Regions from separate parts of the Homo sapiens genome. Here region 1 is linked to region 2. The links come from fine-mapping of genetic effects on gene expression. A gene starts in region 2. The other region holds a variant in brackets. All regions are shown on one strand. Distances are from middle to middle. Region 1 holds the start of LOC124902379 (a long non-coding RNA gene). Region 2 holds the start of FRMD4A (FERM domain containing 4A).

Region 1 (11,088 bases), 630 kb before region 2:
GGGGGTCTCACTATGTTGCCCAGGCTGGTCTGGAATTCCTGAGCTCAAGTGATCCTCCTGCCTTGGCCTCCCGAAGCGCTGAGACTACAGATGTGAGCCACTGTGCCCAGCCCTGTCCTCTTTTCTTTCTCTTATCACCTCCCCCTTGACCCCCAATTCGCTCACTCTCCTCTTCCCCAGAAAAAGAGAAACCCCTTAAAATATGGATAAGATGGCAAAAGAGAAAGAACCCTAGAGGGCACCGATTCAGTGACTCTTGTGCCCAGTAAGTTGAGCATCTTGCCACCTTCTCCCAAGAACTCACGCGATGGAGGGAAATCCTCCGTAAGTGCTAGAAACCACTAGCCCAGGGGCCCAGGGTGACCTCAGTCTGTATTCCCCCAGCCCAAGCCAGCAGGATCTTGAGAGAAGCTGCAGGGCCATCTTGGCAGGGCTCTTCCCCTGAGGGAGAATGAATGGGAGTGGCTTGTGGGGGGCTGACAGGGGAGTCTGGGGAGACAGGGCTGGAGGAAGAGGGGGCAGAGTGTTGATATAAGCCCTGTGTGAACCAAGGAGACGTCATCCTCTCACCCACCAGAAAACGCAGCTGCGTGCCCAGAGTCAGGGGTGGTGACATCTCCTTGGAGGAAGTCTGTTTACCAAGGCCCCAGGCTCTAGGTCTACCTTAGGGAAACAGGGTAGTTGCTTTTTTTTTTTTTTTTTTTTTTTTTAACGTTTCCAGTTTTGCATTAAAAAAAAAAAAATGGAGTTGGCAGTTGGAACCGCCTGAGGGTTTTCACAGCAATTACCCTAAACAGTTAGGTGGTGTCTATTCGTTGAGAAAGATTCCTTTTTTCTTTTCAAAAGGAAGATAGTATACCACTGTTTAAACACCAAAAAGGGCTTGCCTTCACGCTGCTAGAGGATTCTCCCGAGGGCCAAAAGCACAGTGGGAATTCCTCAAAAGGGGCCTACCTGGCTGCAGTCAGCGGCTTGAGCGGCTCTGATGGTGGTCAGAGCCCCCTGGACCAAGATGCATGGAATGTGCCCTCTTGAAGAGCTAGTCTCATCCCTCCCATCTGTAGCCCTAAGAGGCAAGCCTGTATCTGTGCAAGGTATGGACCCGGGCAAGGGACATGGCGCCTCCCCCACCCATCCGATCCTCATTCCTAAACTAAGAGAGGCAGACAATGGCCCGGGCTTGGTGAGAGGTCTGGTCACTCACCTTACTCTGCTTTCTGTCCAGATAGAACTGGTGTTGGCTTATGGCCATAGCCCAGATGGACTTGATCAATGCCGGACATGCATACCACGTGTGCACTGCAATGCCGCTGTGCCCAAACGTCCTCCTTGTCACTGAAGCCCTGGGGAAGCAAGAATCACAAGGTTCAATCCCATTTCTGTTGAGAGAAACCATTTCTCAGTCAACAGCTTCTGTAGAGAACCCACTGCGTCCTAGAAGCCCTGGCGTAAAGATGATAGATGAGCTCTCACATACACCTAGGCGTACACACACACACATGCGCACACAGCTTACAGACATCATTGGCTGGGCAAAGGCCACCTTCTGATTTTCTGACTCCCTAGAGTTCAGAATCTGGCCAAGCCTCGGCCTTGTCTGGGATAAGATGGGTCATTCTAGGTCAATGGATGGTCCTTTTTCGATCCTGGACTTGGCACTGGGCCAAGACAAACTTCGCAGACAGGAAAACCTTCAATGATGCTCCCTATGAGACAGGAAATGTGCCTACGGTGGGGATGAGTAAATTATTTTCTAATCACCACAGGCTACAGCGTCCCAGGGAATTGGGACTTCTTATATAACTAACCCAATGTTCCTTGAAGATTTGGTGATCAATTTCCAATCTATTCAGAGGGCAGGGAGGGTATAAAGAATCAGGAGAAGAAAGGCAGAGAGAAATGTGCCCAGCCCCAATTCCCCCAACGTCTGTCGATACATTTCATTTATATTTTTCAGATGGAGTCTTGCCCTGTCACCCAGGCTGGAGCGTGCTGGCAAGATCTCAGCTCACTGCAACCTCCACCTCCCAGGTTCAACCAATTCTCCTGCTTCAGCCTTCTAAGTAGCTGGGATGACAGATGCCCCCCACCACTCCGGGCTACTTTTTTGTATTTTTAGTAGAGACAGGGTTTCATCAGGCTGGTCTCTAACTCCCGGCCTCAGGTGATCCACCTGCCTCGGCCTCCCAAAGTGCTCGGATTACAGGCATGAGCCACCGCACCTGGCCCTGTCTATACATTTTTAAATCTACATGGAGTAATCAGACTTTAAAAGTGAAAACGGGAACTGTTCATCTCCACATTCATGGAGTTAGGGGGAGTTATATGGTCATGCTCTTAGTGAAGTATATTTTATAGGATAGGCAGATTATTTTGCAAATGAAATCTAAGAATGTGTGTTTGCATGTGTGTGTGTGTGTGTGTGTGTGTGTGCGCATGCATGTGAGACAAGTTGACAGGAAGGTGGGCTGGGATTTGGGGCATTTTACATGGACATCAGAAACAAAATGTATGTTCTCAAGACTAACATATCTAATTTGGAAGAAACCTGGGGGTAATCAGGACTTACAAACAATAACATTTTTTTTCATGGCTAATTTTCCCTTAAAGAAAACAAAGCTGCCAGCAATATCTTACTTTGGGCGGGGGTCGGGGGTGCTAAAGATTTAAAGTGGAGTCTTGTTCACCCTCACTTTTAAGGAGAAATTCAGATCCGGTGGTTAATGTTACTGAGTCCACACAGGTTTTTTCTCCCTTCGGTTCCAACAAAAGTGAAGGAAAAAAAAAAAAAAAAAAGCCAGAGCGTGAAAGAGCACACAGTTGAAAATAATTGAAAAAAGGAGCCAGGGAGAGAGCGAGGGGGAGATCCCTCGCCAGTCTCTCTAAATTTAAAAGAAAACAGGGATCTGTGCTCCCAGCTTGGCTTCCATAGCAGTTCTTGCTCTTGGAAATAAATGAATGACTTTTTTTTCCCCCCAGAAAAGCTGAATTAGACAAGAACAGTATCTTGAAAGGTGGTGCAAGGCTAGGTACCTCCATTTCTCAGGTACCGGGAGGGCAGAAGAGGTAAGTGGCTGGTCAGGTCCGGGTAGTTCCCCGGAGCATCTAAATCAGATACTCAGAGTTCTTCTCCTGCTCTATCATTACTTTATCTCCTCTCCTCATCTTTCGCTTCAAGCCCTTCCTATTTTACCCAAACCGTAGAAGTGAAATATTGGCCCAGCCTGGAGAAGCTCAGAAATGAAGCTAAGCATTGAGTTAGGATGCCCAGGGGGAGAAAGTGCACAGTGTTGTCCAGTGCCCCACAGGGAATGGTGCAATCACACCTGAGCCCATCGGCCCAGAAAGCAGCCTCTGCCCTGAATCATTCCCATCGATTACATCTTCATTAAATGACCGTATCTGGCGTTGCCCATCCTATTACTGCAGTTCTGACTGCCTTCCTGGCTTGGGGGAGGGGCTGAGCCCGGAACACCAAACTAACGTGAGGCCAATCACATTCCTCTTCCCTACCTCAAATAAGCAAGGCCACAAGCAATAGGATGACACATTCAACTTAAAAAGCACCGCGAGGTTCACTTCAAAGTAACTGGAAGAGAGGACTTGCAATGATACCAACATAAAAATAGTAAACACTGAGGCGGGTGGATCACGAGGTCAAGAGATTGAGACCATCCTGGCCAACGTGATGAAATCCCATCTCTACTAAAAATAAAAAAATTAGCTGGGTGTAGTGGCGCACGCCTGTAGTCCCAGCTACTTGGGAGGCTGAGGCAGGAGAATTGCTTGAACCTGGAAGGTGGAGGGTGCAGTGAGCCGAGATGGCGCCACTGCATTCCAGCCTGGGGACAAAGTGAGACTCTGTCTCAAAAAACAAAACAAACAAACAAACAAAAAAACACTCAAGGCCATGGATACCCCACGTACCCTGCCTTGATCATTCCATGTTCTATGCATGTAACGCACTCACACGTGGCTCATGAATACGTGAAATAGTAACTCTCAATACAAGAGAAAAAAGGCACCACTAGGATGTGAAAAAGAGAACTGAGTGCAAGAAAGATCTTACAGCTCATAGCTCTGGCTCTGCCATGCTAAATAACTGACCTGAAGCCATTTCCTTTCCTTGTGTGTCTTTAATGCTGAAGTCATCCCGGGTCTCCACCTCTGGCCTCCCTGGGCCTCTCCCCCATTCCTGCCTGTCTGCAGGCTAACTCAGTGTACTCAGAGCGAGTTTGCCTGGGACGAGACAGCTCTGCTTCTTCCTCTGGGCTCCTCCAACTCCCACTTCCCTCCAGCCAGACCCTCCCTCATTTGTTTATCCTAATTGAGAAGCCCCCACCTGACATCTATATCCCCCTGAGGCCCTACCACGTGGCTTTAATCCTAGTTACCCCTCCAGGTCCAACTCAGACCTCTCCTTCCTGGTAAGCCTCTCCCTTCCTGACCAGCCAGGCCTCTGGTGACCCTGTCCTTCACCCTTCATGGCCCACGACGTCTGGCCCTTCTGTACAGTATAGAGATAAAGGGCATGAGCTCTGGAGCCAGACCTCCTAGGTTCAAATCCTGCCTCTCCTGTATACTAGCTACTTGTCGTCTAGAGCAGGTTTCTTTGTTTCTTGTGACACTCCATGAGTTCCTTCTTCTCAGCCAGGTTCCAGGCAGTGGCTCACGCCTGTAATCCCAGCACTTTGAGAGGCCAAGATGGGAGGATTGCTTGAGCTTGGGAATTTGAGACCAGCCTGGGCAACACTGTGAGACCCAGTCTCTCCAAAAAAAAAAAAAAGCTGGGTACGGTGGTGTGTACCTATAGTCCCAGCTACTCGGGAGGCTGAGGCTGAGGTGGGAGAATTGCTTGAGCCTGGAAGGTGGAGGCTGCAGTGAGCTATGATTGCACCACTGCATTCCAGCATGGGCGACAGAATGAGACCGTGTCTCAAAATAAAAGTTCCTTCTTCTGCCTGTCTTCTCAGTTACACTAGAAGATCTTTAAGGAAGAAGACCCTGCCTCCGACTTCCTTCCTTCCCCGCCACAGCACCCGACAAGGACACAGAAGCTTCGCAAGAAACATGACATTGATCACTGCTGTCTAATAGGCGACAGGCCCACTGAATAGTCACGTGTGAGATCTAGATTCTTTCCTATATCCCTGGGCTTTGGTAAAGAGAGTTTAGCAGTACTCACCAATAGGGCGACAGACGCACAGAGAACACGAACACACATGTGCAGATATATGCGTGCGTGGTTAAAGGATTTGTCCAAGGTGCCTGGGTGTTCACTGAATTCCCAGCAGAGCACAGGCATGGCGGAGGGTCTATTCCCTGCGCTCAGCCCCTTAGATTACCCAGCCCCTCATTTTTATCCTATGGAGCATCCCCTTTCTGCATCTGACCCATTGTGGCAAAGTTCATTTCACTCTTTCTGTACTTAAATTTCCCCTCTCTTACATGCCTAAGAACCTGGTCCAATTCAGTTCACCTGGAAAATGAACAGTGAGTTTCTTCTTGGCTGGAATCTTATTTTTGAAATCTCCCCGCCCACCCCACTTGGCCTGCACAGATGGATCTGTGCTCCATGGAGTGGGGCTTCTGGCCGCGAAACCCCTTGCAGGGCCCTGAGAAACACCGGATAAAATATTTTTCTGTTAAAGGCTACCATTTTCACCTGACTGTGGAGATGCAGAAACTCTCAGCTGCTCTCCACTAACTATTCCTGTAGTAACCGTGGTGCTGAGATAAGCTCTTGCCCTACACAGGAGTGGCTGTTTCAGGCAGATTACCCTGGAGGGCAAGCACGGCTTCATTCCTACCGGGTTATCATGGGCTGCAGGAACAGGGGCTACTGCACAGGTCCAAGCCCTCTCACTGGGCGGGGTAACTCCAAATCTCCCTCCTGTCCAGAGCTCATGGGGAGGGACTGCAGCTTGTTTTGAGCATCAGAAGCCATGTGTGAGCTGGAATTGGTGCCAAGTCCTCCTTCTAAGCCCAGGGCTGGAGCGTCAACAGCGCCTAAAACCCACTTTTGCTCCTCTGTAGAGTCTGATCTTTTTTCTGTCTCCCTGGGGCTACCTTCTTATTGTAAATGTCTCTGACCTTATGGAAAGTGATTTCTTAGTTGTCAGGCCTGGTTTTAGGGAATTACGCTGCTGTTTTTGGGGATGCATATAACTTTAGGTCCAGCGGCAGACAAAGAGAGGAAAACAGTGGGTATGAGCTGCCCAGACCCCAGCCACCTGGGGCTCCCTGCATTCCAACCTGGGGCCCCACTGTCTTGCATCTGACTTAAGAGTACAGGGACTTTTTACAACCCTGGTGCTCTCTGGGGTACGATTTTGGGTGGAGGGAAAAATAATTTCATTTCTTTCACATCCACCCACAATACTAACATCCTAAAATTACAGCTCCTGGAATAAAACAACGTAGCACAACTGCTTTGGTGACAAATTCATTTTCGCATTGACCGTCCTGCCTGAAATACTTTTAGAAGCTCTAATGAGGGATTCTTCAGACTCTTCTATAGCAAAAGTTTCCTATGGGGACTTACTGGTGTGTGTTACAAAGTGCTATAAAGCTTCCTTCCAGTGCCCCGGCAGGTAAGACAAACACATACACTGACACACACACACACACACACACACACACACGAGCCAGGGACACATGTGGCCAGATGAGACAGTCAGGGGATTGCTACTTACACACACGTGCGAACCCACTGCATTTATCAACACATGTAATTGAAAAGAAAGTTTCACTGTCTGATTTGAGCTCCATTCCCCAGGAGCCCCCACCCTCGCTCCCTGCTCCAAACTGACCATGAACAACGACAGCCCCAAAATAATATCCATAACACGCCCGGCCGAGAGCCACGCCATCCCGCAAGAAAAGGACTTTTCAAGCTTACCTGCGTGGGTCATGAACTTCCACGGAAAACTTCTTTTCTCTGAAGTACAGGTTTTCCAACTGTCTCCATTGGAATATCTGGACAGAAAACAGTGTAGTTTAAAACTCAGGAGGGGCTG[G/C]CTCCTGGGCCATCTTCCCCTCTCTGCTGGTTAACTTTCGACAGCTGGCAGTTTCCTTATCAAAACAGAGACCGTAGTCTGTGCCTCCTCCGCCTCTTGCTTGACACACACACACACATACACACACACACGCAGCTCTCCAGTTCAAAACCAGGCAATGTGGGTGTGGATTTTCCTGCAGGTTCCTTAACTGGAACAAAACAAGTTCTTTTCAAGTTCTCCGCCTTCGGTCGGCCTTTGTTGGTTTGGTCGTGGCAGTCCCCAGCTTGGCAGACTTTTCCCTTCCAGGAGAGGGAGGAGAGGTGGAGACCGGGGAGAGGGACCCAGCAGGGAAGGCGGCGGGTGAGGGGAGAGGAGCGAGAGGAGCGAGCGCTCAGGAGGGAGCGGTAGCCATCTGCGTGGAGTGCTGAACTGAGCTTCCTCCCCTCCAGTGCTGAAATGGGAAGGCGTTCAAATTCCCAGCCTCCCATCGGGACTCCACTTCCTGCTCACTAATGTGTAAGAGCCTTGCAAAGGGCGGAGGAGGCTGGGACCTTATTTCGGGGGCAGGCAACTCAAGATCACAGTGTGAGCCTGTCAAGCCCATTCTTCTTGCTGCAGCACAAAGAAAACCAAGAGTTCTGTCGCCCGGAAGGACGCTGCGGCCAGAGTCTCTCCCTCAAGCTTGGCCAGGGAGGGTGAGAAGTGGAATGAAGGGGCCCTGGCGGTCATTCCTCCTTCGGACCAGTGAGCTCGTTAACTGAGAAGCTGACTGTAATGTTTGGAAGTAATTAGGGCTGCATCCAATTGCTCCAGGAACGGGGTTCCTTTCATTGGATGAAAAAGAAAGTTACTTTAACCCTCTGGGAAATATCACAGGAGGTTCAACTTGTGTGCACACACATTTGCATTAATATTTGCTGGTTACTGCATCACCTTCCACATACTGGGAATTTCGGTTTATTTTGCGGAAAGAAGGGGTAAAGTAGGAATCTTGTTCTTGTCTTTCTGCGGGGAACAGCTTCCCTGGGCTCCCCCCTTTCTCTGGCCACTGAGTTAAATGCTTTTCAGGGTCTTACCCCAGAGTCCTCGGACCTCAGGCTCCTGACCCTCTCTGACCTGCTCATGTTCTGCCCACCTTAGAGACGTGATGGCCATTTCCTGTATCTGACCCACCCTGTCTTCCCAGGCTGGGGACACTGCTAGTCAATGGTTGGCTAGTGGACCTAGCACCCCATATAAAACTGGGCTGGAATAAAAACTGCTTCTGGAATGGCCACATTCTTTTATCCTCACAATCTGCTCTCTGGAATTTTACAATTATTTTGTCTGCGTTAAGTACTGGGAAGGAGAATATCTATTATCTCTTATTACAGAGTTGCCTCTTTTGTCCCCGGCTCAGAGTGCATTTCACTCTGAAGCCCAAGGAAATTGTATTTTTCTTTCTTGTTAAGCATCAACTCCAGGTGGGTGGAGAGACACTGCAAGGAAAGCAAATGGCCCAAAGCTCTATGTTGGCTGACAGCTTTGTGTCAGAGATTCAACAGCGCCTTAGCGGAGTCTATTACTAAAATACACAGACCCAGGTCTCATGGTCCTGTCTGATGCTTGGCCACTATAAATCCTTCCATTAAAACACCCAAATTTCCTCTCTGGTCCCCAGGTATTATATATTCAGCGACATTCCACCTGAACTTAGCCAGAGCTACAAAAATACCAGAATGAACAGGTTCCACGACATTGGCCTCATAGCCTGGGGGCAGTACACTGAGCAAAGCGGTCAGGCAGGCAGGCTTTGTGGTCTGACTACATCTGTTTGAATCCAAGCTCCACTACTTTTTTTTTCTGAGACAGACTCTCACTGTGTCCCCCAGGCTGGAGTGCAGTGTCACGATCTCGGCTCACTGCAACCTCTGCCTCTCGGGTTCAAGCGATTCTTGTGCCTCAACCTTCCAAGTAGCTGGGATTACAGGACTATGCCACCACACCTGGATAATTTTTGTATTTTTTAGTAGAGATGGGGTTTTGCCATGTTGGGCAGGCTGGTCTCCAACTCCTGGGCTCAAGTGATCTGCCCGCCTCGGCCTCCCAAAATTTTGGGATTACAGGCGTGAGCCACCGCACCCAACTCAGGCTCTAAGCTGCTGGACCTGACACAAGTTACAGCATTTCCTTTAGCCTCAGTTTTCCCCTCTGTAAAATGGCAAAAATAACCCCTCTAAGGTAGATCTCAGCAGCCACAGATCGTAGCACAGTACCGGCACAAAGTGACCTTAGATCTTACTATGAATCCCAAATGCTCTTACTTCTCCCAAATCCTTGCAGATTAAAAGAGAGTAACTCCAGAACAACCAGAATCATTCTTTTCTTAGATTTCCTAACTCAAGCCCTGAGTTTTGGATTTAAAAAAAAAAATATGTGTGTGCTGCAAATCCTTAAATACAGAGAATTTTTCTCCCAGTGCCTCTCCCCTCCTCTCACGTAAGGGATGTGGATGGTACTTCAATGAAAGGGTCCTGTTGGCTGCATACCACGGCGGTCCCTCAGCCGCTATCCTGCACCCGCCTTGCTCAGGCAAAGTGAAGTCTTGAACAGGATCGGCCTTCTGGGTGTGCGACCTGAGGGCCCTTTGCTCAGAAGGTCCTTGGCTTGATTTCCTGCTCTGCTGTTGATATCTTGAAATTCCTAACAGGTTTTTTTTTCTTTCTTTATATCTTTATTCTTTTTTTTTGTCTTGTTGCTATACGCTTTTTAAAAAATTAATTTCCATAGGTTTTTGGGGAACAGGCGGTATTTGGTTAATTAGTTCCTTAGTGGTGATTTATGAGATTTTGGTGTGCCCATCCCCTGAGCAGTGTACACTGAACCCACCTAATGGGTTTGATCAAGGGGCCCTGCATTTCCATTTTGCACTGGGCCCTGCTCATTGTGGACTTGATCCTGGCCTTAGGTCCTGGCATGTACTGGTGCTGGCAGGCTCTGTGGGGTAAGGTGCCTGCCAGCCTAATGGGCAGGCCTGGGAGGTGGAACCCTCAAGCCCTCCAAGAGAAGGAAAGAAAGCAGAACCAGGTGTGAGCACGCTTGAGAAAACCCCTGTGCCTTTCATGGGAAGCCCCCCTCCCCACCCGATGAAGAACCCCAGAGCAGAATGCTCCGAGGGGTTGTTTCCCTGGCAACTCCTGTCTCCCCCATTCCATGCAAAATAAAACACAAACCAAGCTTTGCTTTAAGTGCTCCCTGATGCAGTTCAGCGTGGAGAACTGCGCGTCTGCCAAAGAGCCCGAACAAAACCATCTGGACTCTGCTGCATGGCCCCGTCTGTGGCTGCTGTAGCTGCCCGTGGGAAGGCCCTGCCTCCAGCTTCTGCCCTTGGCTGCGAACCATGGAGTCCCGGCTCCCAGGCCTATCCCCGGGATGATGCACTAGACATTTTTGTGGCAGGGTGCAGAACAATGGATTCCCCCTGATGCTTGCTTTAAGCATGAATTTTTGTTTTGCAAATGCAATCCTGGGAAGGAAGGGTAAGAGTAAAGTGAAGGGATGGGTGGTTTTCAGGATCAGATTGTTGCGTTGAGACATTAGAAGGGCCCAGGAATGGGCTGGGTATGGTGGCTCATGCCTGGAATCCCAGCACTTTGGGAGGCTGAGGTGGGCAGATCACTTGAGGTCAGGAGCTTGAGACCAGCCTGGGCCAACATAGCAAAACTCCGTCTCTGCGAAAAATACAAAATTTAGCTGGGTGTAGTGGTGGGCACCTGTAGTCCCAGCTACTTGGGAGGCTGAGACAAGAGAATCACTAGAACCCGGGAGGCAGAGGTTGCAGTGAGCCAGGATCATGCCACTGTACTCCAGCCTGGGCGACACAGCAAGGCTCCTTCTTAAAACAAACACAAAAACAAAAGGGTCCCAGGAACAGAAGAGAAGGTGTGCATGTCAGAACAGTAGCCTGATCTGACTTCTCTTCACTTAGGAGGGAGGGGGTGAGCTAGGGAGCAGGAATATGAAGGCAGTAGGGACCAGGAGGGTGGAAGCAGCTGCCCCTTGCCCAGGGCCGGGGTGCAGCTTGCTGGAAAAGCATCATTTTCTTCAT
Region 2 (11,088 bases):
TTCCCGCTCTACAATTAGTCACATCAATCTGAAGCCTCCTCACGGGTTGGTGAACACAGCAGTATCTTCTTTCGCTGCCTGAGATTCTTGCAAAGATGGGAGAGGCAGCTTTTCAACAGCCTAAAAGGCCATCTCCACCACCAGAATGTGTCTTCTCTCCAAGTCCCCCCTTCCGTGGTCATATGAGTGGCTCTGTCCTGTGTGGAGAGGCATCACTGCCCTCTGTGAGCTGTCCGTTGAAAGAATCAGTGAGGTCCTCCCACCTCAAGATGGTCCAGGCATGCTTACCACCTGGGACCCCTCCCAGCTGACCGCAACCCAGCCCTAGCTTGAAAAGGCCTCTGAGACACTGTTCAAAAGTCATTGGCTTTTGTCCAATGGACCAACTTAGGTTCCTGTGGGGTAGACTCCTGATGGCAGAGTATGAATGAACACTAATGATCATCCGTGTCAGCTAATAATATGAAACATATCTGCCCTAGCATAAAAGCCAGAGTGGGAACACACTCCACCATTTTCATAGCAATACTGCTCATGTGCAAGGTTGGAAATAGAGACATAACGCTAAATAAAGCCCTCGAATTGGCTATCCTGGAACTTCATCTGTACACTGTTTCTTAGAGATCTTAAATTGTGTTTAACAGAATGGAAGGGAACCTAGACATCAGAGAGCACTCTCAGTTAGCAAATGGCATCACCAAGGCAGAGAAAGGAAGGGACATTCCCAGGATCACTCAATGAGTGGCAAGGCTAGAATGGAGCACAGGGCTGTCCAACCCTCCAGACTCTGTGGCCGCTTCTGTAACCAATTAAACATGCTCTGCCCTGAAGCATTTAGCATCTAAGCTGAATGTAACCTCTGGGTGTCTCCTTATCCAAAAGCAAGGGGTGTGGCCAGATCATCTCCCCACCTACCCCTTAGCCCCGATGACTCCATAGCACAAAATCAGAACTGCAATCCACCAACCTGGTATCAGCCTCCCACAGACTGTGTGTTTATGAGCTCTGGCTCTTGCTGTTATGCCAGGCTACTTTCCTCAGTGAGCAGACACGCGATAAATACTGACAACTGATTGGCTGATGAATGAGCTCATAAATAATAATGTTTACAGCTTCCTTCCTGAACTCACAGCCAAAGCAACTCCGCTAAATGGCCTCTTTTCCTCCTTTCTTTCCTCCTCGGCTTGCTTATAAATTTTAAGATGCATCATGCAAGATGTCAGGGAAGCAATTACTTTGGGGTTTACCCTTAAAAAGGAAAAAAAATAGCACCAAAGTCCATAGGGGAAAATTTCCCTGAACTAAACATGAACCAGAAAATGTATACAGACTTTGATTACACATGGTACTCCAGGGTTCTTTAATCAAACGGTCCATCAGGGTGTCAAGAGCTCTTTCCCCTGGTTTCCAAGAGAGGAGAACACGATCCTTTTTTCCGGGCAGGAGGAGAGTGCCAGGGACAGATCTAAGGGCAGAGGCCACTGACAAATGGAAGGTGAAGTCTGAGATGTAGACACTACCAGGACAGCAGCCATAATATGTGGAAGACCCAGGACCAGAAGAGCCTGTGTGTGTGTGTGGGTGGGGGGGGGGGGTGTATAACAGCAGAAATGGATGCTATTCATTTAATTTGGATACCAAGGATTCATGCTTAGGGGCTTGGAATAAAGCAGATACACATCTTTCTTCTAAGTATAGAAGAAAGGTCCAAGTAGGAGGCTGAGACAAGCGGGTCTAACTCTCCCTAAAGATATTTTTCAAGAAAACTTTTCTCCTCTATATTAACACGATGCAGGATTTATTTCTGTTAGTGTACTAGATAATATAATATACATATGCATGTGTGTGTGTGTGTGTGTGTGTGTGTGTGTGTGCATATGTGTGCCTGTATTTCAGAGCATATAACCCAGGCTCCCAGGTTCCCAGAAGTCTCCTAGACCCCATAGATAATGCATTTTAGTGCCAGCCATCATCACGAATACTCAGTGATGGAATGAAAATTCCTATCCAGTTTATTTGACCACAGGTAGACGATGGAGGATAAAGTATCATCAGACGATAGAATTAGTAAGGGAAAGAAGTCAGGTAATGGGTAATTTCTCTGGAAACTGACAATTTCATTTCTTCTAGTCCTACTCCCCCAGTGAAATGAGAAGTCAGCAGAGGCCCATGAGATAGATTTCAGGCAATTCAACTAAATCTGTGGACCCAGTGGAATTTTGAGCAACGAAGAACCAAGATATCTGTTCCTTTTAACATGACCTGGCTTGCCACCCAGGGGGCAGGCTTCCCACTGACGGCTCTTCCAAGTCACCTCCATAAACTCATCAGGCCTTGCAAAGTTGCATTTCCCCTCCTCATTCCGAAGACACAAATCAATATACACAGAAGCACTTATGCTTGGTTCATAAAATCTCCTGTGTAAATGCTGGAAACATTTCCATGCCAAGCCTGATGCAGGCTACTTCCGACAACAGCCAGTATTACCGTGGTGTGTGGGAACCCTGGGAAAGGAGAGAGATGCAAAACCATGGCAAAAGCCACTGCTGAACCTAGTGTCAAGCCAAAAGCCAATTGGGTTGGAACAAGACAGTGCCCATGTCCTTGTGTGCTTTAATATGGTAAGAGCTAGGGCTTTCTTAATATGGTGAAAATTCCAGAGGGGCATAAGGTGAGTCAGCTGCTCACACACAGATAAATGCCTGGACAAGTCCTGCCAAGGTTGGCCATCAATGGTAGATAGGAAACAAGCTGCTCCCAACTCAGTAGCCCAAGCATCACTGAAGCCACAGTGAACCTCCTCCACCACCTCTACAGGAAAGTATGAGCAGATATATGGGCGCCTAGAAAGAAGACCCCATTCTGTCACCCCATGGGCAACAGATTCCACAGTTGCCCTGAGAAGATATCCAAAAACAAACACAATCAGCTCAATTTAGATGCAAAAGACAAGGGGGAAAGGATGCTGGGAGCTGGAGGAGGCATCCTAGCAATCTATTTCGAGGGGCTCTTAGCACCTGTTTGCAAGCACAGCTCTCAAAATAGCATTCAGCAACAAGTTTCTGAAATGGCAAATCTACAGCTTCTTTTCCCTGCAAGTGCTTTGTCATGCTGATACTCTGACCCAAGAAAGCATTTCCAAAGAGCCTGCGGGATAAAGCGGAGCAATGTTGAACATGTCTGCAGCCACTGCAGCGGCAGCAGCAGCCCACGGTGCAGGGGAGGCTGGAGTGGACGCTGCCCGGGCCCCACCTCCTGTCTGAACACTCACCATCAGCAGGCCGAGAGCTGAGTCGGGCACCAGCTGCACTGCCATGGTCTCCGATTCCCATGCACGAATCCTGCTGCCGAGTCAGTCCTCCTGGGCCCCGGGTGGCTACAGAGCATCCAAAAGCACCTGCAGAAAAAGCAGCCAAAATCCAGACTTAGGGAGCAAAAGGCTCAAGGGGAAGATAGGCCACCTTTCACACAGGGTGGGGAGGAGGTCAGGGAAGACAGGGTGGGAACTGTGCTTAGGGAGGAAAAAAAAAAAAAGAAGAAGGAAAATAGGAAGCTGCAGGTTATTTAAAAGTGAGCCCTCCCTAGCTTCGCAAAGCGGCACAGACAGGGAGACCGCATCAAACACAAACGTGAAAGCTTAGAACACGGAATGTTTAACTGCTACCTTCGCCCTGGCAGCAATTCTTCCTTTAACTGACAATTAAAATAAAACATTCCCTATTGCAGATAAATCAAGCAGCCCGAGCCACCCCCTCTCTCTGCATCTCTCAGCAATTCTGCTGCATAAACATGCTGAATGTCACAACATACCGCTCGCAATCTGGTCAGTGTCTTCTTTGCTGCAGATAGGTGTGTCCCTTTTTGCAAAATCAGATATCTGGGAGTGAGACAGCCGAGTCTGACCATGAGGCACCAGGCAGTCACTGGAGATCAGCAAATGCCCTTACCATCCCCGAGGAGGAAGTCACTTAGGAACTGACCCTTCCACCTTCCCCAGATCTACTTTTCCTCTCCAAGTAGACTGGCCAGCTCAGCTCCCGGTAGGGCTAACATACTTAAGAGGAACATGGAATTGCACTGCCTGTTCTGTGAGCGTTCTGATCTCCCTGGCTGTACCACATGTACGCCGCATACAGACACACTCTACCTCTCTCTCCCTCCCTTCCTCCCGCCCTTCCTCCCTCCCATCCCTTCCCTCCCATCTCTCCACAGGGCTGCCTGTTAGGAATTTTGAAGGAGCCTCCCTAGTTCAGGGAGGCATAGGAGGTGAATTTGTCACAAGGGACACTGCTTAACAGGAAAAGGCAAGTTAGCCTTGAAAATCATATCATGCAGCATTTTCCCCGGAAGATGTCAATGAAGGGAGAAAGAAAAAACCTGCCGAATCTTGTTATATAATGGGTAGCTCAAAGGGCTTTCCAGAGTCAAAGACTTAAGAAAATTAGATATCTTTTCATGAGCACTGTCAAGCTTGTATCTTCTTCTGGAGTCCATGTATTCAACTAAAAATGGTTATTCCTGATACTTCTAGTATGTCCTTTTCTGATTTCTTCCTTTACTCACCTCCTGTAATGGCTCCAAAAAATCCTGAAAATTAACTAGACAGTGTGAAATGTAGAAACATAGAGAACAGTTTTCGAAATAAGAAACTAGGGGGAAGAAATTAATGACCTTTCATGTTCCTGTGCACGAGCATAGCTACTGTTCCTTTATTACTTATACTTTTAAAACTATTGATTTGGGCCAGGTATGGGAGCTCACACCTGCATTCCCAGCACTTCTGGGGGTTGAGGCAGGAAGATAGCTTGAGACCCAAAATTCAGGGTGAGCCTAGGCAACATAGCAAGACTTCATCTCTACAAAAAAAAAAAAAAAAAAGAAAAATAGAAATAAAAGAATTAGCCAAGCATGGTAGTGTGTGCCTAGAGTCTCAGCTACTTGGGAGGCTGAGGTGGGAGGATCAGTTCAGTCCAGGAGTTTAAGGCTGAAGGGAGCTATGACTGCACTCCTGCAATCCAGCCTGGGGGACAGAGCAAGACTCTGTCTCTAAAAAAATTTAAAAATAAAAAGTATTTGCTCATCACAGTGCTTAGCACAGAGTAAGTACTAAAATATATTCAATAAATGAGTGAAGGCTGGGTGCAATGGCTCACGCCTGTAGCCCCAGTACTTTGGGAGGCTGACGTGGGCAGATCACCTATGGTCAAGAGTTCAAGACCAGCCTGGTCAAGAGTTCAAGACCAGCCTGGTCAACATGGCAAAACCCTGTTCTATGAAAAACACAAAAATTAGCCGGGTGCGGTGGGCACCCGTGTTCCTAGATACTTGGGATACTGAGACAGGAGAATCGTTTGAACCTGGGAGGTAGAGGTTGCACTGTGGTGAGATCGCACCACTGCACTCCAGCCTGGGCAACAGAGCAAGGCTCTGTCTCAAAATAAAAAAAAAAAGAAAAGAAAAGAATAAAACAAAATAAAATAAGTGAGTGAAAAATTTTCTCCCATTTTGTTTTTCCTATAGTGGCCCAATGAGCTTGAACCTTGATTCCACAGTGTGTGGATGGAGTCTCATGTTACTGATCCCCGGAACACCAGAGCAACCCTCCTTGCCAGCAGGTGCCTGGAGATTCAAAGCATGACTTGAGTCGCATGCATGTGGCCTTGCACAGAACTGTCAGGACATTCTGACTGTGCTGGTGGATTGCAATACTATTCAAAATAATATGTATAGTCACATTTGAAAAATAATAACAATGATTTAAGGAACAGGTCTATAATAGTGATTTAAGGGACCTTATCCTAACTTTTCAGATGGATTTCTAAATGTATTCAACTGATATTTGCAGAATGCCGACTTTGTACCTCTGCCCTCAAGGAACTTTTTATCTGGTAGAATCATTAATGATACAAGATAATATGTAAGAAATGCAAAAAAAAAAATCCCAAATAGTTTGGATAGCACAGAGTAGGGAGGGCTTACCATTTCTTTTTTTTGTAGCTTTTGCACTGGAACTTCAGGAACAGCAGAACATCTTTTTCAGGACATTTGCTTTCTGATTCTACATGGACTATGTGTTTGGAAAATAACCAAAGCTAAGAAAAAACGTTAATATTGGAGCTATTGCAACTGGTGGATATGGGCAGAGAAAAGACAAACCCTGAGGAGAGACAGGCAGGAGCAGCCTCAGGTATGGGACAGTCTGGGACATCCTTAGGTTGCAGAGGCCGGCCTGAGAGATTTTGTGTCAGCCCTTGACGTTGGCCCCCAGAACACCCGCCTTCCTCTCTCAGCACTTCACTCATGGCTCCTTTGCCTGGAAAGCCTCATCCCCTGTCTGCTTGAATTGCAGCCCAGATTTTCTGGAAAATAGCCTGCAGCAAATCTTCTGCAAGAAGACATCATTGGGAGGTGCAATTTCAGGGTGGCAAGAGTGGGGGTGTGGGGAAGGTGAGGCAGGGATGGAATGAGAGCAGGTACAAGGTGGGGTTGACCAAAGTGGGCATAGGACAGCTACTCAGTCCTGAGGAAGAGCTTCCAGACAGGTATGGAACTTCCAGTTTTTGGCATAACCCATCAAGGAGACGAAGGGAGAGGGAGCTAACAGCCTAGTGCTGTCCATTAGTTGACTCTTTTTGGTCAAATTGATTCCATCAGACATTAACCCTCTTGCGCTTCAGGGTTATGTTACCAACTCCCGCAGGTAGGCATGAAAGGCATTGCATCTGAGCCCAGAAGATAAGGAAGAAACCATAGCCTCTGTGAGTCAGTCAGACAGGACCTGGGCCCTGGGGTGGTGAGGCTCCTGCCTCAGTGTGTGGGATGGAAACCCTCCCTGTTCTGTCCTGGGAGGCTAGGACAGCTAGCAGTGCCAGGAATTGAAATGACAATGGCAGCACCTGGGATTCCCAATGAGCAAGTGGCTCAATTTGCCCAGGGAAGACAGGAGGAGCCAAGTAAATCTGGGAAACACATACACTGAGTCTGGTAACAGCATATACGTTCACACAACATTCAGTGTCAAAAGTTGCATACTTCATGAAATTCTTCCCAATTCCTCTATTTGGGCATTCATAGTTGCTTTGTTTGTACAACTTTTAAATTCCTTCTTTAAAAAAATTGGCAGTGATTTGCTTTTCTCTAGTATCCCCCTACTAGAGAGGAACAAACTAATTTCGGAACTGAGCATTGCTCTTCTCTGTTTACTTCTACAGCTCCAAGCATCGAGCTCAAACAGCAGCCCATGCTCAATAAGATTAAATCAGGCACCAATGGAGATATCAAAATGTAAAGCGCAAAGAGGAAGAGGCAATGGCAAGACCTCAGGGAGTGGATAGGACATGGGGAGTTTGTGAGGACAGGTCACAGGCTGATGGAGAAGGAGTTGTCAAAGGAGGAAAAGGAGAAGAGAGCTCCCAAATTCGAGTGGCAATGGTCATTCCACAAAGATGCCTGGGTGGGGTGGAAGGGTGTTTCAGTACAGTTTCGGACACAGAAATCGAACTGCAAGGGGTTATCGAGCAGCTTGTGAGGAAGAGAAGTTAATTCATATTAAATAGGCCCTCATCAAAAAGCAGTGGAATATGAGCTATCCAGGTCCTTTCAAGAACTAGTTCAAGGTCACAGAAGGAAGAAGGTGTGGGGACAGCAATCCCATCCTCTGAGTCACTAAACTCGATTCTTGGTTAATCTTACCTCCCAAGAAAGCTATATATATATGAAATCCATTTCAATGTATCCTCCTTTAAAAACTCCTCAAATGAAGCATAGTTCAATGTCACACCCATCGCAAAAAACAGCTCTTCATAAACCTCTTCTGGGCCAGGTGCAGTGGCTCATGCCTGTGATCCCAGCACTTTGGGCGGCTGAGGTGGGTGGATCACCTGAGGTCAGGAGTTTGAAACCAGCCTAGCCAACATGGCGAAACCCCTTCCCTACCAAAAATACAAAAATTAGCTGGGCATGGTAGCACGTGCCTGGAGTCCCACCTACTTGGGAAGCTGAGGCAGGAGAATCCTTTGGAGGAAGGTGGGAGGTGGAGGTTGCAGTGAGCCAAGTTTGCACCAATGCACTCCAGCCTGGGACACAGAGTGAGACTGTATCTCAAAACAAACAAACAAATACTCTTCTGTATTTAGCGTGAAGCTGTTGTTCAGACATTGGCCATGAGACCACCCACTGCCATCTATATAAGTTGCCCCAGGTGAGAAATTCCTCTCAGAATCTAGTACAAAGGAAAATGTCATTATCCTGAAAGAGCCTGTGGTGTGGGTGGCTTTGGCCCCAGAACACCTGCCAGGCCATTTTACTCTCAGGAATCTGAAGGCTTATTCTGTCATTTTCTCTAGGATCCCGAGCAAGAATTACAAGGGTGAGGTGAGACTCAAAGAAAGTATTATTTATTAGAGATTTTCTTAAGTTGCACATAGTAGACATTCAATAACTGTGAGTTCTCTTTTGGTCCCCTTTTAATTCTGATAATGAGAATAGTGTACCTAATCACACTTGGCACACTGGACTTCCAGAATGCCCAAAATCTAATTTTACTTTCAATGACAGCAGATACTATCATAACTGGCATTATTACTTCCTTCTTTTCTTTCAATCTTATTTTTCCTTCTAATGCATACTCTATTACTCTTATTGAGTAGGCCTTTTTGTCAGTAAGCCATCTGAAATTCATTTTTAGTAAGAGATGGGACATAAATCACTCATTAATGTATACACTGTGCTCAAGTAGATTTGGCACACTGTGAAATATTTTGCAGCTATTAAAATGGCAATTATGAAACTATTTAGAAGTATTGCAAATGTCTGAGATATGTTTATTTGCAAGTAATATGAGACATATTCTCTAATTGCAACCATGTAAATATTTGTATTTTAAGAATATGTGAAGAACTCCTGCTTCTATCCAAGATGGAATTAGAGGGAGCAAGTCTACACTTCACATGAAACAAACAAAAAATGTAAAATATACGGAACAATACTTTTCAAGTTAATGGACATAAGACAACAAATGCCAGTGATCCATGAAAGATAAGAAACAAATTAGAGAAGCCTTACAATTGTCCCAGGTTATTGAATCAAGAGTATTTCCAGGCTACGGAACCGAGAGTGGAGCTACGTGGAATCAAGTGTTCTCCAGAGTCATGGAGACAGAGCTGAGAGTCAGGAAAGATTGGGATGAACACAGTTCACAAGACAGAGCACCAAAGAGAAGACAGGTGTAAAGAGAAAGAGAACTTCTGAGATCTTCAAAGAGTCCCCATGAGCACTCAGTTGAGTGCTGATCACCACATACATGTGGGGAAGCCACTCAAGGCTGGGGAAAGAACCACATAAAAAGATTGGAAAGAATGGTGACCAGTGCTCACCCAGGGCCAGAACAGTGTCTGCTCACATCCGCCAGACTGGAGAACTTCATAATTCCTAATACATTATTAGAACACTCAGATGGCTCTTGCCTCAACAGTGAGAAATAATTGGTCATAGATTGATCACTGTCCTGAATCTGCCTAACCATTCTGAAAAGTAAGACCCAAAAGGATTAAACTATTTCCACGTAACTTAACTGGATTCCAAACAAACTTAAAGAACATTTATAAAATTACAAAAATATCCAACTCTCAATGAGGTTAAATCTATAATGTAAATTTACATTGTGTATAATTTACATGTAGATTTATAAACTAGAATGTCATCTGATAAAAATTACCATGTACGAAGAAAGTAGGAAGATATGGTCACTAAATAGAAAACAAATCAATCAAAATCATCCAGAATGAACATAGATGTTAGAGTCAGCAGAAAATATTAAAACAATTATTATTGTTTAAATAACATTAATTATTAAAACAATTTTGAATATATTGTATTCAATATATTCAAAAAGTTAATTAGAAACATGGAAAATATTTAAAAATTCGAAGAACAAAATAAGCATCAGTCAGCTATAGGACATCTTCAAGTAGCCTGATAGATATATCATTTGTATCCTTGAAAAAAGAGACACACAGAAAATTGAGTTGAAGAAATAATAGCCAACATGTTCACAGATTATATGCTGAACAAATTCTAAGCATTAGAAACATGAAGAAAACTACACCAAGGCACTTCATAATCAAATTGCTCAATATCAGTGATAAAGAGAATATTTTGGAAGCAACCAGAGAGGAAAAACATATATCACGTACACAGGGACAAAGATAAGGGTAACAGTAGATTTCTTTTTTGGAAACAATGCAAAGAAGAATCCAGTAGAGCAGCGTTCTTCTAAAAATTTAAAGAAAAATTATCAGTATAAATTTCTATACCTACAAAACTATCTTTCAAAAATGAAAGCCAAATAAAGATTATTTTAGACCCACAAAGTAAATAAAAGGCAAACCAATTTGAAAAGAAGTAAAAATTCTCACAAAGAAAACCCCAGGCCCGGATAGATTTACTGGTGGATCCTAGCAAAGATTTAAGGAAGATTATACCAAATTTACATACATTCTTTGGGAACACTGAAGAGGAGTCAATACTTACGAACTCATTTTTGTGACACCAATACTACCCTGTTATCAAAATCAAAGACAATAAAAGAAAAGAAAGCAACAGATCCTTGTCCCTCATAAGCAAGAATGCAAAAATTTTAAACAAAATGACACCACATAGAATCCAACAGTATATTAAAAAGATAATGCACTGTGGCCAACCAGTCCATATTCCAGGATTGCAAGGTTAGTTTATTATTCTAAAAGCAGTCAGTGTAATTTACTATATTAACTAACTAAAAAAGAAAAACCATGTGATTAGCTGAATGGATGAATAAAAAGCATTTGATAAAATGCAACATCTATTCCTGATCTTTTTTAAAAAAATTCAGCAAACATGGAGTAGAAGGGAACTTCCTTAATCTGATAAGCATGTACAAAAATGTATAGCTGTCTGCATAATTAATGCAAAAGATTGAATGTTTTTCCCCTAAAATCAGAAACAAGGCAAGGGTGACCATTCTCAGCACCTTTCCTCAACATTACACTGGAAATTCTAGACATTGCAGTAAGCCAAGAAATGAAGATAAAAGCTATCCAGATTGAAAAA

The links.
Region 1: its variant is fine-mapped to the expression of FRMD4A in whole blood (TOPMed, PIP above 0.99).

The regions. Positions count from the first base shown.
Region 1 is chr10:13,700,136-13,711,223 of GRCh38, forward strand. FRMD4A (FERM domain containing 4A) reads right to left here. Exons shown (of 25, transcript NM_018027.5): 13 at 6,902-6,978; 14 at 1,205-1,343. LOC124902379 (a long non-coding RNA gene) reads left to right here and starts at 7,431. Exons shown (of 2, transcript XR_007062061.1): 1 at 7,431-7,517; 2 at 7,620-8,275. LOC105376426 (a long non-coding RNA gene) reads left to right here and starts at 10,353. Exons shown (of 4, transcript XR_001747371.2): 1 at 10,353-10,519. RefSeq lists a silencer at 609-658 and enhancers at 7,367-8,102, 7,511-7,560, 7,591-7,640, 7,711-7,770. The variant G/C (reference allele first, on the strand shown) is at 7,020.
Region 2 is chr10:14,326,787-14,337,874 of GRCh38, forward strand. It overlaps FRMD4A (FERM domain containing 4A), which reads right to left and starts at 4,138. Exons shown (of 25, transcript NM_018027.5): 1 at 3,811-4,138; 2 at 3,272-3,397. The coding sequence starts at 3,316.